2 separate regions of the Homo sapiens genome follow, and region 2 is linked to region 1. Evidence: fine-mapped expression QTL. A gene starts in region 1. The other region holds a variant in brackets. All regions are shown on one strand. Distances are from middle to middle.

What was found. PIP is the estimated chance that this variant, and not a neighbour inherited with it, causes the effect.
Region 2: its variant is fine-mapped to the expression of NUDT2 in monocytes (Fairfax 2014, PIP 0.95).

The regions. Positions count from the first base shown.
Region 1 is chr9:34,325,407-34,333,934 of GRCh38, reverse strand. NUDT2 (nudix hydrolase 2) reads right to left here and starts at 4,366. Exons shown (of 5, transcript NM_001161.5): 1 at 4,336-4,366. It overlaps KIF24 (kinesin family member 24), which reads left to right and starts at 4,667. Exons shown (of 13, transcript NM_194313.4): 1 at 4,667-4,829. RefSeq lists enhancers at 4,421-4,610, 4,146-4,653, 4,741-4,840, 4,941-5,000.
Region 2 is chr9:34,202,983-34,210,982 of GRCh38, reverse strand. All of the region lies in intron 1 of UBAP1 (ubiquitin associated protein 1), which reads right to left. It also overlaps the pseudogene RNA5SP282. Among named protein-coding and RNA genes, the nearest start is that of UBAP1, 28 kb to the right of the region's middle. The variant G/AG (reference allele first, on the strand shown) is at 3,935.

The sequences.
Region 1 (8,528 bases):
CAACCTTTCAAGAGAAGCATTATTATATCTAATTTACAAGGACACTGATATTATTTCAAAAGGTTAAAATACTTGCATAAGGGCATAGCTGGCCTGTAAAGGATGGGATTTCAATCCAAGTAAGTCTAACTCCAAAGTCTATAATTTTTGTCCCTTTCATAGCTCTGTTCACCATGAAAGAGTAGGGCTTAGGACACAAATGGCCCTGAGAGAGGACAGACAAGATTTATAAAATCATTTCCAGTTTCAAAATTCCCAGTCCTTTTTTTTTTTTTTTTTTTTTTTTTTTTGACAATGTCTCTCTGTGTCATCCAGACTGGAGGGCAATGGTATGATCACAGCTCACTGCAGCCTCAAGAGCTCACTGCATCCCTTCTGGGCTCAAGGAATTTTCCTGTCTTAGCCTCCTGGGTAGCTAGGACTACAAGCAGGAGCCATCACATCTGGCTAAATTTAAAAAACACTTTTTTTGTAGAGATGGGGTCTTGCTATGCTGACCAAGCTAGTCTTGAACTCCTGGCCTTAAGTGACCTTCCCACTTTGGCCTCCCAAAGTGCTGGGATTACAGGTGCAATCTACTGTGCCTGGCCCCAAATTCCCAGTCTTTAATCTATATTCCTTTGGAGGTTAAGATGTCTAGCTGGGATCATTTCCACCAAAAAGGTTTTAGTTGGGGGGAGAGGGCCGTAGATGTTAAATCCTGGTATCCGAAGAAGACTCTGAAGGAGGGGTAAAATGTAGCCTCAGGCTCCTAATAGCACCCATCTCAAAAGGGTTTCTATGCCTCCTCTGCTCTTTTCTGGGAAGTAGGAACCTAAAACCACATGTTCCACTTAACTTAGGGCACTAGTGTCCAGAAAATTTGCCCAGACCCTCCTCCAGATGAGGAGGAAAGCCAACTGTTTGCCTGCCCACAAGCAATTCTATGTGACTGCAATTCTATGTGACTACTCCCTCACCTCCCACATCATCATCATCTTTTTTCCAATTTGCCAGTTTCTTTCTTCCCTTTTGGAGTGGACAGAAATGAGGCACCCACCCATGAGTAAAGCTCTTTCTTGTAAGAACAATAACAAATGGAAGAGAAGAAAAAAGAAAGAAATGCAAAAGAAAAGCCCCAACTACCATGAATAAATTGAGACAAAGAAAATATTCCCTCAAATGCACCTTTCCCTGGACATCTGCCACTCCATTCTTGCAGAGACGAAGCTGCTGAGTCATTTTGTTATTTTTGCTATTGGCTGAGGGAGGAAACAGGAGATTTTACCTGTAATGGCATAAATATTGGCTTCTAGGATAAGGCCAAAGTCAGACAAGGTTGGGACAAAAATCATTCTTAGTGAAGGGGATTTGTTAAGCAGCCTATTAGTGCCATCTGCTGTACAATTCTAGAAAGCTAACTCGGGGAATTTGTCTGTTGTGCGTATCCCATGCGACAGACAGTGTGAAGGATTGACAGATAGATATGAAGCTGAATACTACCAAGCACCAACTTCCTAGAGATTTACAGGCTAGTGAAAGTGGAAGACATTCCAACAGACAAGTTACAGTGTGTTTTGTGCAACGTAAGATGGAAAGGCAGCAAAGAAGCATCTTTAGGTTAACAAGGTACCCCATAAGGATTCTGATGGGTCACTAGTTTACCAGGCAGAAGGGAGGCGGATGCAAGGCACTGCCAGCAAAGGGAGGAGTGTGGGCAACACCCTCAAGCACAAAATGACATCTCATTGGTAAACAGCTTAGTTTATATTCTGTAGGCAATGAAGCCTCTGACTGGTTTTAGGCAAGGGTATAATTTGGTCAGACTGACATTTTACAAAGATATTCTAGCTGCAAGCAAGCTGGGGAACGAATTAGGACAGATTGGAGGCAGAGAGATTAACCAGTTACAAGTCTATTGCAACAGACCAGTTAACAAATGATTCCAGTTAGATCAAGGCAGAGGCTGTGAGAAAGGAAAGGAAGGGATGAATCTGAGAGATATTTCAAAGTAAAATGGACAATAGTGATATTTCATTGTCTAAGGGACAGAGAGATGTTTCATAAGCCAAGGGAAAGAGAAAGGCTTTGGTTTGAGTGCCTGGGTGGAGGAGGGGGTGCAAGTGAAGCATTTGTTTGGGACAAGTTGAATTTGAAGTGCTATAGTCTATCCATAAGATAAATGAACAGATGGGTCTAAAGTTCAGTGATCATCTCATCCTATCTCTTCATTTCCCAAGGTGGGAATTTACTTTTTTAAAATTATTTTTATTAAAACAATTTTTTTCTCCTCCCTTCTCTACCAAGACCACGGTGAAAATTTTCTATTAGAGCAAGATATTGCTCCTACCATAGGTACCTCTGCAGCTCACATTCCCTCCAATTTAGGTAAGTCAAGCTGTCCAACCTGCCCCTGCATCTGTCTGGTATTCCAAGCATTTTCATCCTCCTTTAGTCAGAAACACAGAAAAGCATGGCTGTCTATGCAGTCAGAAAGGCCTAGCTATTGAAGTTAATAGAGCAAGATACTTAGAGCAAGATACTTAACTTCCTCATTTGTAAAATGAAGTTAACACCTACTTTGCATGGTTGTTGTGGAGTTTATAAATGACATATATAGAGGGTCTGACATTATCAGAGGTACTAAATATATGAGTTACTGTTACCCGTGTGTCATAAAAGATCATCAAAAAGCTTCTCTGTTTTAAAGAAATGACTTTTCATCTTGTCTGTTAAACTGCTCAACACTGTTCACCACAGTATATATATTCCTTATAAGGTCCCACAGCATAAATTCCTTTTAATATAGAAACTAGAAAAATAATTTATCTTTTGAAGAATGGATTTGTTTCCTTATTAGTAAGAATTACCTTTTTTCCCTTAACTGACTAATTTTGGGCAAAATTGGGTACTCAGTTACAAAAAGTACACCAACGCACTGACTAGTGTATTTGCCTGTTCTTATTATAAGAATAATAGCTACCTTTTTTTTTTTGAGACGGAGTCTCCCTCTGTCGCCCAGGCTGGAGTGCAGTGGTGCGATCTCTGCTCTCTGCAAACTCCGCCTCCCGGGTTCGTGCCATTCTCCTGCCTCAGCCTCCCGAGTAGCTGGGACCACAGGCGCCCGCCACCACGCCCGGCTAATTTTTTGTGTTTTTAGTAGAGACGGGGTTTCACCGTGTCAGCCAGGATGGTCTCGATCTCCTGACCTCGTGATCCGCCCGCCTCGGCCTCCCAAAGGGCTAGGATTACAGGCGTGAGCCACCGCGCCCGGCCGCTACCATTTTTTAAGAAGTTACTACTCGCCAGGCGTTGTGTCAAGTGCTTTACCTTCATTATTTCACTTAATCTTCACAACAACCCGCTGAGGCATTACTGCCATTTTTCAGAAGAGTAGAAAGGGAACTATAGCTCAGAGATGTCTGGGTAAGTGACTCAAATGTAGGTCTGCCTGACTCCTAACATCAATGATCTTAACCTTAACTCTATAATAGCGTTTTACATTTGACAATTTGATTGCATTCAGTTTTTTTTTGTTTTGTTTTGTTTTTGAGACGGAGTCTCGCTCTGTCGCCCAGGCTGGAGTGCAGTGGCGCGACCTCCGCTCACTGCAAGCTCCGCCTCCTGGGTTCATGCCATTCTCCTGCCTCAGCCTCCCGAGTAGCAGGGACTATACGTGCCCGCCACGACGCCTGGCTAACTTTTGTATTTTGTTTAGTAGAGACGGGGTTTCACCGTGTTAGCCAGGATGGTCTCGATCTCCTGACCTCGTGATCCGCCCGCCTTGGCCTCCCAAAATGCTGGGATTACAGGCGTGAGCCACCGCACCCGGCCTGCATTGTTTACGCTGTCCCTTTTTTGTTTGTTTGTTTAAGGCGGTGGGGCTCTTGTTCGACTTTCTTTACTTCTGCTATAACTGCCACGATATTATCCATTCAATAACTGAAGCAATTAGAAAACATAAAATCTCTTTTGGAAAGCAGGCGGGGTTTAATGGGTAGCAACAAGTGAAACTGAGGCCCAGGGAGGGGAAGGTTCGGCGCCTGGGCCTCTGGGCCCTAAACCTGGACCTCTCCCGCCTCTGGGATTTGGACGACCCACCCTATCCCCACTCCGACGGGGACAAGCAAGGCTCAGAGTCAGGGAACCTCCCTTCTCCCGGTGCAGACAGGAAAACTGAGGTCCTGAGAGCGGATGGGACCTGGCCTGCCCACACCTCACTGCCAACTTAGAGGAGGGCGCATCCCTCTCGGGCCCTGCAGCGACCAGAGGTTTGCCAGAGGCAGATTCCCATCGCTCCAAGGCTCATTTCCTCCACTGAGAACTAAAATCAAGTGGGCCCTTAAGGGTACTCACCCGAAGCAGAAGGAGGTAGGAGGCGGACCTTGGACGGAAACTGAAGTACACCGGCCAATCAGAAGAGCCTGGTTACGCTTGGGCCCATCAATAGAATTCGGCAGAAGGATCTTCGACCCGCCTCAAAGGTGCGCGTCTCACACTGAAACGTCGCGAGATCTTCCCTCAAGCGGAACGATTGGCTGAAGGTCGGAAATTGAGAGTTACGCCCACGGTTTCTTCAGACCTCTGATTGGTCTTCCAGAGGAGAAGTCAACGAACGTCAACCGATTCCTTGGATGCCCATTGGTGGGCGGTGCGGGACTGGCGACGCGCGGGCCACAGCGCGGGCGTTCGAACTGGCGCTTGGCGGCGTTGCCATGGAGATGCGGCCTGGCCGCCGCCGGTGGCTCCCGGGTTGACGGGACTGTTAGGTTGCGGGCTTTGGGGCTCACTCCCGACGGCATTGTCTTCTCCTCTTCTCAGACAGGGCAGACCGAGGAGTTTGGACCGAGGTGAGAAAGGGCGGGGAGAATAGAGGAGGGGTAGGTCTGGTCCGGAACCGTGGCGCCTGCCCGCGGACACGGGTGCGCGTGACGTCGGCTGAGCGCGGGAGGAAACTGGCAGTTGTGAGGGAACCGAGAGTTGGCCCCTCTTGGCTCTTCCTAAAGTTCACCTACTTTCCTATCTTTCATCCCCATATCTCTGCCTTTTCTTCAGCAATTATCTTGAACGCCACTTCTCTCACTTTGGGAGACTAAACTCTTGAGTCCCAAAGCCTTCTTGCTTTTGAACCGATAAGCCTGACCGGCACCTCTTTTAGGGCATTTCTATTCGCCCTTGGGTTGTTTACTTCCGGGAAGCCCGTTCGCTTCCCTTTTCCCATAAAATTTTGAAGCCTTTGAGGTAAGGCAAGCATCGTTCACAATGTCTTGCACATAGTAGATTTTCAGGAAATATTTGTTGAGTTGAATTTAATTTACAAGAAATAGATTGGATTCCTCTTCATGCCCTGCCTTGTTGTCTCTCTGCTTCAGAGACGATTTTTTATTTCGAGGCTAGGGGGAGGCCACCCTAATCTTCAATGCAAAAGGACCTAAAAGTCCACACACAGTCCACAGCTGGCCTTTCTACTCTTTGTGAAAGGCTAAACTTTTTTGGATTGGTTGCTGCAACTCTTCCTGCATCTGTGGCTTTTAGCCTTGGTCTCCCAATAATTTTATTAGACTCCTTTTAGTCTTTGCTTAAAATAAACCATTCTGTTGCTGTATGCCAAGATAATTTATCTCCCTTTAGCTTCTTAGTGACCGGCAGCTATTGTCACATTTTAAGTGTGCTTTGGAAAATGTTTTAAAGCATCTTCTTTGTACTTGTATTCTACAAGTAGAGAGGCTTTGTAGTCTCTCTATTGAAGTGCATATAACAGCTGCTCAGGTGAACTCCATCTATTCATCAGGTGTCTATGATAGAATTGCGTTCCTAAGACTGTTTCGTTGTTAACTCATGGATTATATATTCACAGCCTGATTGTTGGTGTGATTGCTCCTTATATCAAATTCATAGCTCACTGGTGGCCTTAATAAAAGGAGTGAAAAAGTTCAGTACAGCAGCTATGTTCTTGTTACCCTTTTATAAAAGTTTGAAACACTACCTTATAGCTGTGACATGTAGTGGAAACCCACTACATGTGGGTTTGGCTTTGGCTCTGTCTCTGTCTCTAATTCACTGTGGGTGGCTTTGCAAGTCATTTAGTCCCTTTATTATTATTATTATTTTTTTTTTATTAGAGAAAATGTCTTGCTCTGTCACCCAGGCTGTAGTGCACTAGCATGATAATAGCTCACCGCAGCCTTGAACGCCTGAATCTAGCCCCTTTAGACCTCATTTTTTCCATCTGGAAAATCAAAGAATTGAATTAGATTAAAATTCCTGTGGCTCTACTCTCAAGTCAAGTAGTTGATGTCAGGTAGACCACACACTCTCAGCCTTCCAAAGACCATACAGACTTTTTTTTTAGCTGCTGAAAGTAGTAGTTACCATTTATTGAGTGTTCACCCCGTACAAAGCACTGTATCCAGGGCTTTATATGCATATTACATTTTTCTTAGTGTAGCACATTACTGCTAAGATAGCATTTTATTTAAAATTTGTGGTTTTATATTGTTAATGAAAATCTTTAGTTATTCAGAGTGTGTCCTTGGGGCAACCTAAGGTATGAGCCTCTCAGTTTTTAGTTTAGGGAGAACCACAGTTTCTTTCTCTGGGCTGCTCTTTTGTCGTAAAGTGAGGGGCTGAACTCTTCTAGATCCCTTCCAGATCTAGTATTCTATGATGCCTGATATATTAATCCAGTTTCCCTATGCTGGCTCAGCAAACCAGTTTATAATTTGCACAGTGTAGATCCTCAACACATTTTGTTAAATAAATAATAGAGTTCTACTTCTTAAACCTTGAGTGTATGGTCATTGTATACCTCCCAAGTTACTGTCTCAAGGGTTTTGATGTTCATATCGTGTTGAATAAGAAGAGTTTTCTGTAGGTATAAACTAATAATAATAGTATAATATATTGTTGAGTGTTTATATATCAGACACTGAATGTAGCAGTTAATTTACATTATTCTAATTAACCCTCATGAAAGGAAACATTTTTTCCAAGTCAGCATTTTTTTTTGTCAGTTCAGTGCAGTAGCTTCCTAAATGATCTCCCTGTTTCCACTTTTGCCCACCTGCTGTGATCCATTTCCTCACAGAACTGGGAGAGTGAACTTTGAAGACGAATCATAGCATATACTTTCTCCACTTAAGATCCTCTAATGACTTCCTACTTCACTTAAAAGTAAAATTCAGACACTTTTATGTGGCCCAGTACACCCTACATAATCTGGCCCCTACCTTTCTCTCCTCTTCTCATACTATTCTCCTTCTCACCTACTATGCCAGCCAACCTGTCCGTGTTTGATGGCTTGATTTTGCCATGCTCATTTCCACCTTTGGGCTAATGTGCTCACGTGGAACCCTCTTCCTCCTGATTTTTACATAAGTGACTCCATGTTATTTCAGGTTTCACCTCAAATATTCCCTTCTGAATGAAGCCTTCTCTGATCATCCAATGTAAAGTAAGCCCTGCACTGGGCTTTATTCTTCGGTAGTGATTATCATCATCTAAAACTACCGCTTATTGATTATTAATTATCTCTTCCCATTAAAATAATAGTGTCATGAGGGCAGGGACCTTATCTGTTTTTTGGGGGGTTTTCTTGAGACAGGCTCTTACTCTGTCGCCCTGTTGCCCACACTGAACTGCAGTGGTGTGATCATGGCTCACTGTAGCCTCTGACTCCCAGGCCCAAGCAATCCTCCCACCTCAGCCCCCCAAGTAGCTGGGACCACAGGCATGTACCACCATGCCCAGCTAATTTTGTTTATTTGTAGAGACAAGGCCTCACTATGTTGTCCAGGCTCATCTCAAACTCCTGGGCTCAAGCAATCCTCCCTCAGCCTCCTAAAGTGTTGGGATAACAGGCATGAGCCACTGTGCCTGGCTGACCTTGTCTGTTTTGTTCACTTATATTCCTGGTGCATAAAACAGGGCCTATCTCATACAAGTCTCTCAAAAAATATTTCTTGAAGATTGGATAAAGTTTCCTCTTGGAACTGTAACCATATCTGTGTCCATATCAATTCATTTGAGTAATACAAACTTGCATAATTTTGGTGTCCAGGAGCAGTGACTCAGGGCACCAGCATCTCTGTCACAATTTTCCTGAGTAATCAAATTACCCTGATAAATAGTTTCTACCACCCGTTACCACAAACGATATCAAATGCTTTTATAGAGTTTTAATATACTGTAGGGATATTTATTCATTAAACAATTATTGAATATTATTTCCAATCACTCTTTTATTTATTTATTTATATTTTTTTCTGAGATAGTCTTACTCTGTTGCCCAGGCTGGAGTGCAGTGGCGCAATCTTGGCTCACTGCAACCTCTTCCTCCCAGGTTCCAGCGATTCTCATGTCAGCCTCCTGAGTAGCTGGGATTACAAAGTGTGTGCCAACATTCCCAGCTAATTTCTGTATTTTTTGTGGAGATGGGGTTTCACCATGTTGACCAGGCTGGTCTCGAACTTTTGGCCTCAAGTGATCCACCCACCTCAGCCTCCCAAAGTTCTGGGATTACAGGCATGAGCCACCGTGCCTGGCCCCAG
Region 2 (8,000 bases), 120 kb after region 1:
CCCCTATACCACATATAAAGTAATCTCAAATGATTCTTATTATAAAAATTAACAAAAGATACTTTTATATACTGCCTGACATGCAGAAAGAGCTCCACAAAGGTTGACAAATTATTCAAACCAGCAACGATGTGTTTAAAGAAAAAAAAAGGTTGGTGAATTAAATATAACTTTCAAAAAGGCAAAACATTTCCAACCACTCTACCAGTAAACTAGTATACCTATAGAAAACATGTAAAAAAAAAAAATTTTTTTTTTTTTTAAAGATGGAGTCTCCCTCTGTCACTCAGGCTGGAGTGTGGTGACACAATCTCGGCTCACTGCAACCCTCTGCCTCCCAGGTTCAAGCAATCCTCCTGCCTCAGCCTCCCAGGTAGCTGGTACTACAGGCACACACCACCATGCCCAGCTAATTTTTTTGTATTTAGTAGAGATGGGTTTTTGCCATGTTGGCCAGGCTGGTCTCAAACTCCTGACCTCAGGTGATCCACCCATCTTGGCCTCCCAAAGTGCTGAGATTACAGGTGTGAGCCACCGCACCTGGCCAGAAAACGTAAATTTTTATTTGAACAGAATAGTATTAGAATATTTTTTTGTGTTAGTTAAGAACGTAACTGTGAAGACTGAATTCAATTTGTGAGGCCTTGCTTTCAGTCAGGTTAAGTCTGAGAATTAGCAAGAGACACTACTTTCAGGATCTATCACTGTCCACAAGCTCTGTGTTTGCAAAACTTAGCCCCCTTATTACTGTCCGCTGCACATCGGCGTACTTGGCTGAAAATGGAAGGCCAACAAGAGGTCACAGTACCCTGATTCATACTGAGGAACATTTCAATAGCTCCAGTAAGCTTTTCTTTATGCATCAATTTCTTTTAATTCAGCTGGAATAAAATACTGGTTCAGATTTTCCTAAGCACCCGTTTTATCGCAAATTAAAAAAGAAAATTGGAGTCACTAGCGTATAGAAACAAGATTTAATAGGCCCTGACATTGTGGAAAAGAGAGAAGTATGTTTATGTGGATATGGAAACAAATAAGGATAAGATATTTTTATAATGGTGGGATCACAAATTTAGCCTTTTGGTTTTTCCTTTTGTGCTGTTTTCCAGGTTTCCTGTACTGAGCATAGATGCATACATTTATCTATGATCAACACACACATACTTTGTAATTGGGGGAAAAAAACTGGTATGCAACAAGCACCTATAAGAGGATTAAAAGGAAATACAATAATATGTAATTCAACAGAGCGCTGGAAAAAACACAAACAAAAAAAAAAATAGGTAACTAATGAAAGATAACGACTTCAGAGAGAGAAAAAAGAACAAAGAATAAATCAGTGGTTTCTAGACCAGTAAGCATACAAATGACTCTAGGTTATAGACTTCATGGAGTACGTAACAGGTGTTTTACTTTATTAACAATAAAGAGTGCAAACCATTGTGTTTTACTTTATTAACAATAAAGAGTGCAAACCACTGAATATCAATACTGAATTGCCCCAAATAACATAGCATTACCACTCAAAAGGCAAAAATGATAGGAAACAAAAACTAGGCAGAAATAGATAACAAATCTAATTTAGCTCTAATCTAGATTTAATTTATATTGTTAGATCAAAAGCATCTTGAAAGCAGGACACACTTTTTAAAATACCCAAAGAACATGTTACAAAACTTGTGTAAATATTAGGACACAAAGAAAACCATGATAAATTTCCAAAATCAGAAGTAGCTGAGTCAGGCCAGGCGTGGTGGCTCACGCCTGTAATCCCAGCACTTTGGGAGGCGGCCAAGGCAGGCAGATCACTTGAGGTCAGGAGTTTGAGACCAGCCTGGCCAACATGGTGAAACTCCATCTCTACTAAAAATACAAAAAATATTAGCCAGGTCTCATGGCATATGCCTGTAATCCCAGCTACACGGGAGGCTGAGGCAGGAGAATGGCTTGAACCCAGGAAGCGGAGGTTGCGGTGAGCCGAGATCACGCCACTGCACTCCAGCCTGAGCAACAGAGTGAGACTCCACCTCAAAAAATAGAACTAAAATACGAAGCTGAGTTAATAACCAGCTTGATCTCGGCTCACTCCATCCAGGCTTGAGCCTCCACCATCCAGGCTCAAGCAATTCTCCCGCCTCAGCCTCCCGAGTAGCTGGGATTACAGGTACCCACCACCACACCCAGCTAATTTTTTTTTTTTTTTTTGAGACAGAGTCTCACTCTGTCGCCCAGGCTGGAGTGCAGTGGTGCCATCTCGGCTCACTGCAAACTCCGCCTCCCAGGTTCACGCCATTGACCTGCCTCAGCCTCCCAAGTAGCTGGGACTACAGGCGCCCGCCACCACGTCCGGCTAATTTTTTTGTATTTTTAGTAGAGACGGGATTTCACTGTGTTAACCAGGATGGTCTCAATCTCCTGACCTCATGATCTGCCCGCCTCGGCCTCCCAAAGTGCTGGGATTACAGGCGTGAGCCACCGCGCCCGGCTAATTTTTTTATTTTTAGTAGAGACAGGGTTTCACCATGGTGGCTAGGATGGTCTCGAACTCCTGACCTCAGGTGATCTGCCTGCCTCGGCCTCCCAAAGTGCTGGGATTACAGGCATAAGCCACTGTGCCCGGCCTCCAGTGGGATTTTAATGGATCCAAAATATAGAAAAGTGTCTAATTTGTATTTACAAAATGAGTATAATATTGGTGCCAAAAAACTTCGGAAAAATTGAATATATAAATACAGATATGAAAATCCTTGATTAAAAAAAAAAGTAACAACCAAAATTACCAGTACATTTTAGGAATAAACCATGTCCAAGTGAGATTTTTTGCATAAATACAGTCCAACACCAACATTAACAATTCTGCTGATATAATTCAGCATTAATGCTCAAAGAAGAAAAATCATATGGCTATCTCCTTTACATGAGTTTTAAAAAACAAAAAACTAATACCAAATACCAGATTATGCTGACTAGTGGGGAGACTACAGAAGTATTCCCACGAAGGACAGCAACAAGACAAAGATATCCATTATTATCACAATTGCTTAGCATTGTTATTTCATATTAGATGGGAGAAATAAAAAGCATAAAAACTCAGATAAGAAACTTTCCCAGGAAAACCCAAAAACTGACAAGAGAATACGATAAACTATTTCTGGATACAAAATTAATATTCTGAAACAAATTAATACTCTGAAACAGCCTTCATATATACATGGCCAGATAATAAATATAATGTGCTGAAACAAGAGAACTGCTTAAGCCCAGGAGTTCGAGTCCAGCCTGGGCAACATTGCAAGATCCCATCTCTTTAAAAAAAAAAAAGAAATAAATAAAAAGAAATATAAGAGAAACACACAACATACCAATATACCACAGCAGTTAAGAACTAGGAATAAACTGAAGACATAAAGGGAGAAAACTAAACCTGTACTGAAAGACACAAAAGAAAACTTAGACAATTAGAAAAACATACAATACTCTTGAGCGGGATATTCAACATTATTAAGATCAATTCTAAGTTGCTATACAAATTTGCCATGATGCAAATGAAAACTGAAGTACCATGTTTTTCTTTCTTTTTTTTTTTTTTTAATTAGACAAGCTGATTCTAAAGTTCATGTAGAAATAACAATTAAGCGGCCAGGCGTGGTGACCCACACCTGTAATCCCAGCACTTTGGGAGGCTGAGGTGGGTAGATCACCTAAGGTCAGGAGTTTGAGACCAGCCTGGCCAACATGGTGAAACCCCATCTCTACTAAAAATACAAAAATTAGCTGTGGCGGGAGCCCGTAATCCTAACCCACTCCAGAGGCTGAGGCAGGAGAATCACTTAAACCTGGGAGGCAGAGGTTGCAGTGAGCTGAGCTCACACCATTGCACTCCAGCCTGGGCGACAAGAGCAAAATTCCATCTCAAAAAAAAAAAAAAAAAAAA[G/AG]AAATAACAATTAAGCAAACGCAGAAAAAAAAGAAAAAATCTCCGAAGAAAATGGAGACTAGCCTATCAGATATTAAAATATTAGAAGATACAATACTGAAAGCTGTGTCGTACTGGTACAAATACAGATTAGTGGAACAAAGTAGAAATCCCTAAAAATACCCAAAATATAAACATTTGGTATATAATAAAGCTGCTTTTTAAAATCAAGTCATGGGACAACTGGGTAGTCACCTAGAAAAAAGCAGAATCCGATGCTTGCTTCACACTGCATACCAAGATAAATTCCAGATGGATCAAAGGTATAGTAACATTATGCAACTGACCAAATGTAGAAATACTATTTTCACTCTACACATACAGCTAGCGAGCCAAAATAACCTAAGTTTCTAAGACTTCAAATTTAAGAAAATACCTGGCTTATGAAAAACTCGGAAAATGAAGGGTTTTGGTTTGTTTTTTTTTTAAGTCAAGATGCTGTAATACATAAGTTTTGTCACTAACTGATTTTAGTCTTACTTTTTTCTTTTCTTTTTTTTGAGACAGGGTCTCACTCTGTCACCCATGCTGGAATGCAGTGGCACAATCTTGACTCACTGCAGCCTCAACCTCCCGAGCTCAAGTGATCCTCCCACCTCAGCCTCCTGAGTAGCTGGGACCACAGGCACCCAACACCATGCTCGGCTAATTTTTTGTAGAGATGGGATTTTGCCGTTTGGCTCAGGCTTAGTCTTATTTTTCAAATGAGGTTTTACCAAAGTTATTAATTGTAAGGTATCCTTAAGGCTTATAAGCAAAGCAATTAGTGTCTACAACCAAACCACCCTGAACGCTCCTGATCTTGTCTGATCTCAGAAGCAGGGTTGAGCCTGGTTAGTACTTGGAAGGGAGAAACACAACTAGTGACTGAATACAAAGCTCATTTCAAATAGTTTAATAAAAACAGATTACAGTTGAAAAGCAACTCCCTAAAAATTACAAAGTGACAAATAAGTACATAAACTAGTACTGTAAACGCAAATTATTGACCCAAACTGTTTTTTGTTTGTTTGTTTTTTGAGACGGAGTCTCGCTCTGTCACCAGGCTGGAGTGCAGTGGCACGATCTTGGCTCACTGAAACCTCCACCTCCGGGGTTCATGCCATTCTCCTGTCTCAGCCTCCTGAGTAGCTGGGACTACAGGTGCCCGCCACCACACCTGGCTAATTTTTGTATTTTTAGTAGAGACGGGGTTTCACCATGTTGGCCAGGCTGGTCTCAATCTCTTGACCTCGTGATCCTCCCGCCTCAGCCTCCCAAAGTGCTGAGATTACAGACATGAGCCACCACGTCCTGCCAACCCAATCTGATTTCTTAAGATCTGCAGCTAATTCCAAAATGGGTCAATAAAATCCAGACAAAGATTTCCCTTAGCTCTGGTCTCCTCTTAATCCTCCAAGCATCTAGTACAGTGTCTAATCTTTAGCAGGAGTGGCTTTTCACTTACTCTCTCCCTTCAAACTTTCTGAAAATTTAATAGCTAATTGTACAACTAATAATTATACCTAACATGTAATTTCAGAATACAACTAGACAAAACAATATCTTTAAAATGAAAAAGCTAAAACAATAATCTCTTGTAGTTACCAATAAAAAGTCTGAAATTATAAGTCTTGTGAGACTACCATAATGGAAGAACAGGAAAGTAATGACTAGTTAAAAATCAGAATGGGAGTCATGACTTCAAAGCATTAGCCAGGGCTGGGTGTGACTGCTCAGGCCTGTAATCCCAGCACTTTGGGAGACTGGAAGATCACTTGAGCCCAGGAGTTCAAGACTAGCCTGAGCAACATAGTGACAACCTGTCTCTACAAAAAATACAAAAACTGGCCAGGTGTGGTGGCACACACCTGTAGTCCCAGCTACTCAGGAGGTTGAGGCAGGGGACCACCTGAGCCTGGGGAGGTCGAAGCTGCAGTGAACAGTGATGGCGCCACTGCACTCCAGCCTGCACTCTCACTCTGGGTAACAGAGTGAGAACTTGTCTCAAAAAAAATAAAAATTAAAGCATTAGCCAATCAGAAATTTCAAGTCAGCATCTTAACCAATTCATTACAATTTATTTAAAGTATTTTCTTCAGAGAGTTCAGTGCAGTGTCCTCAAGAGGAAATCTGACCACGAACCTATCAATTTAATTCTTGCAACTGAATAAAGACTGGTTGGCAAAAAAATAATGTCAACAAGTTATTGAACCAAAAATATAATTTCCTTCCCAACTCCAAAAATCATATCACAATTCATACCAGAAGGCAAGAAAGACAAGAGCACCTGAGGCAATTAAAAGACTTGTAGAATGGGTAAAAACCTCTGAAATTTAAAAAAAAAGAACTTTTAGGGCTTCTTCCATAAAACAAGACTACTACTGGAGTAAATGATCTCTGGAATTCTTTCCAGAATTAAAGGACTAGAGATAGATTATTTTCTAACTATGAATTTCACTGGTTTTTCTAGTCTTATACATATTAAAAAGATAGCACAAGACTTCATCTTAATTCTGAGGGCACATAAAAACAAACGGGTGTTTTCTTCAAAAAAAAAAATGGGTGTGGACTGTGTATACTTACTTGACTCAGAAAGACAAGTATACTTGACTCAGCAAGTATATACAATCCACACCCTTTTTTTGTTTTTTATAAGAAAATCCTTACTATTTGATACTATTTTCCTCTACAAGTAACTAATACAATACTAACTGGTCAGTTTTTTGTTGTTGTTGTCTTGAGACAGAGTCTTGCTCTGTCGTCTGCACTCTGGAGTGCAGCAGCAAGATTCTTGTGCCTTAGCCTCCCGAGTAGCTGGGATTACAGGCGTGGGCCATCACACCCAGCTAATTTTTGTATTTTTAGTAGAGACAGGATTTCACCACGTTGCCTAGGCTGGTCTCAAACTCCTGACCTCAACTGATCCACCCACTGTGGCCTCCTAAAGCTCTGGGATTGCAGGCATGAACCACCACGCCCAGTCTCTTAACTGGTTAATTTTAAAACAAAAAAAAGTTATCATACTAGAAGCTATTAATTTGACCTGAAATAAGTAATTGCAAATATAATTTTTTGTTCTTCCTGGAGTCTTCAAACTCAGTGGATTGTATCATTCTGTTTCCATCATGTGAAACCTGAATGATTTTTCCCACAGAAATAATACAGCCTTGTTCACAAAACTTGAAAACTCAAATCCCCAGGGGAACACTGTAGGCCTAAAGGAAAAACAATATAAGGATGGAACAACTTCACACGGTGTCAAAGATTTATGGGGAGAGAAAAGGGGTTCTTAAGTAATTTCACATGCTTATGAAATATGTGTATGCTAAAATAAATGTCAGAACAGATGTCTTTAAAGTTCTATTAAATATTTAAGAAACAGATTATTCCTATTTTATTTAATCTATTCCAACACATAAAATGGAAACAAATATATATTTGTAGCTTATCAATTTATTCAGGATTTGTTTATTGTCTGTCTTCCCCACTTGCCTTTATGCACTACGAGGACAAATACCACTTCTGTCTCATTCACCATTACACCAAGCATAGTGCCCGGCCACAGTAGTGCTCAGTAACTCCTGCTGAATGAATGTTGCTGAATTCCAAGTTCTCGTATGAGATCAGCATAACACTGATACCAAAAACTGACAGAGAAAAGAGAAAAAAGAACCAGAAATGAAAGCATATTTAATTTTTGTTGATCCTTGTTTTTAGAGACAGGGTCTTGCTCTGAACAGCCCAGGTTGGAGTGAAGTGGCATGAACATTGCTCACTGCAGCCTCAAACTCCTGAGCCCAAAAGATCTTCCTGCCTCAGCCTCCCAAGTATCTGGGACTATAGGAATGTACCACCACACCTAGCTGATTATTTATGTTTTATCCATACATACCCAAATCCTAATTAAAATAGTAGTGAATTAAACTGCAAAATCCTGACTGTAGCAAACTTTTAGAAAAAGTGATTCAGTTTCCTTCAACACAAAAAAAGCAAGATGAAAAGAGAACCTACAGACTGAAAAAGATCTTAAGGAATACATCTCAAG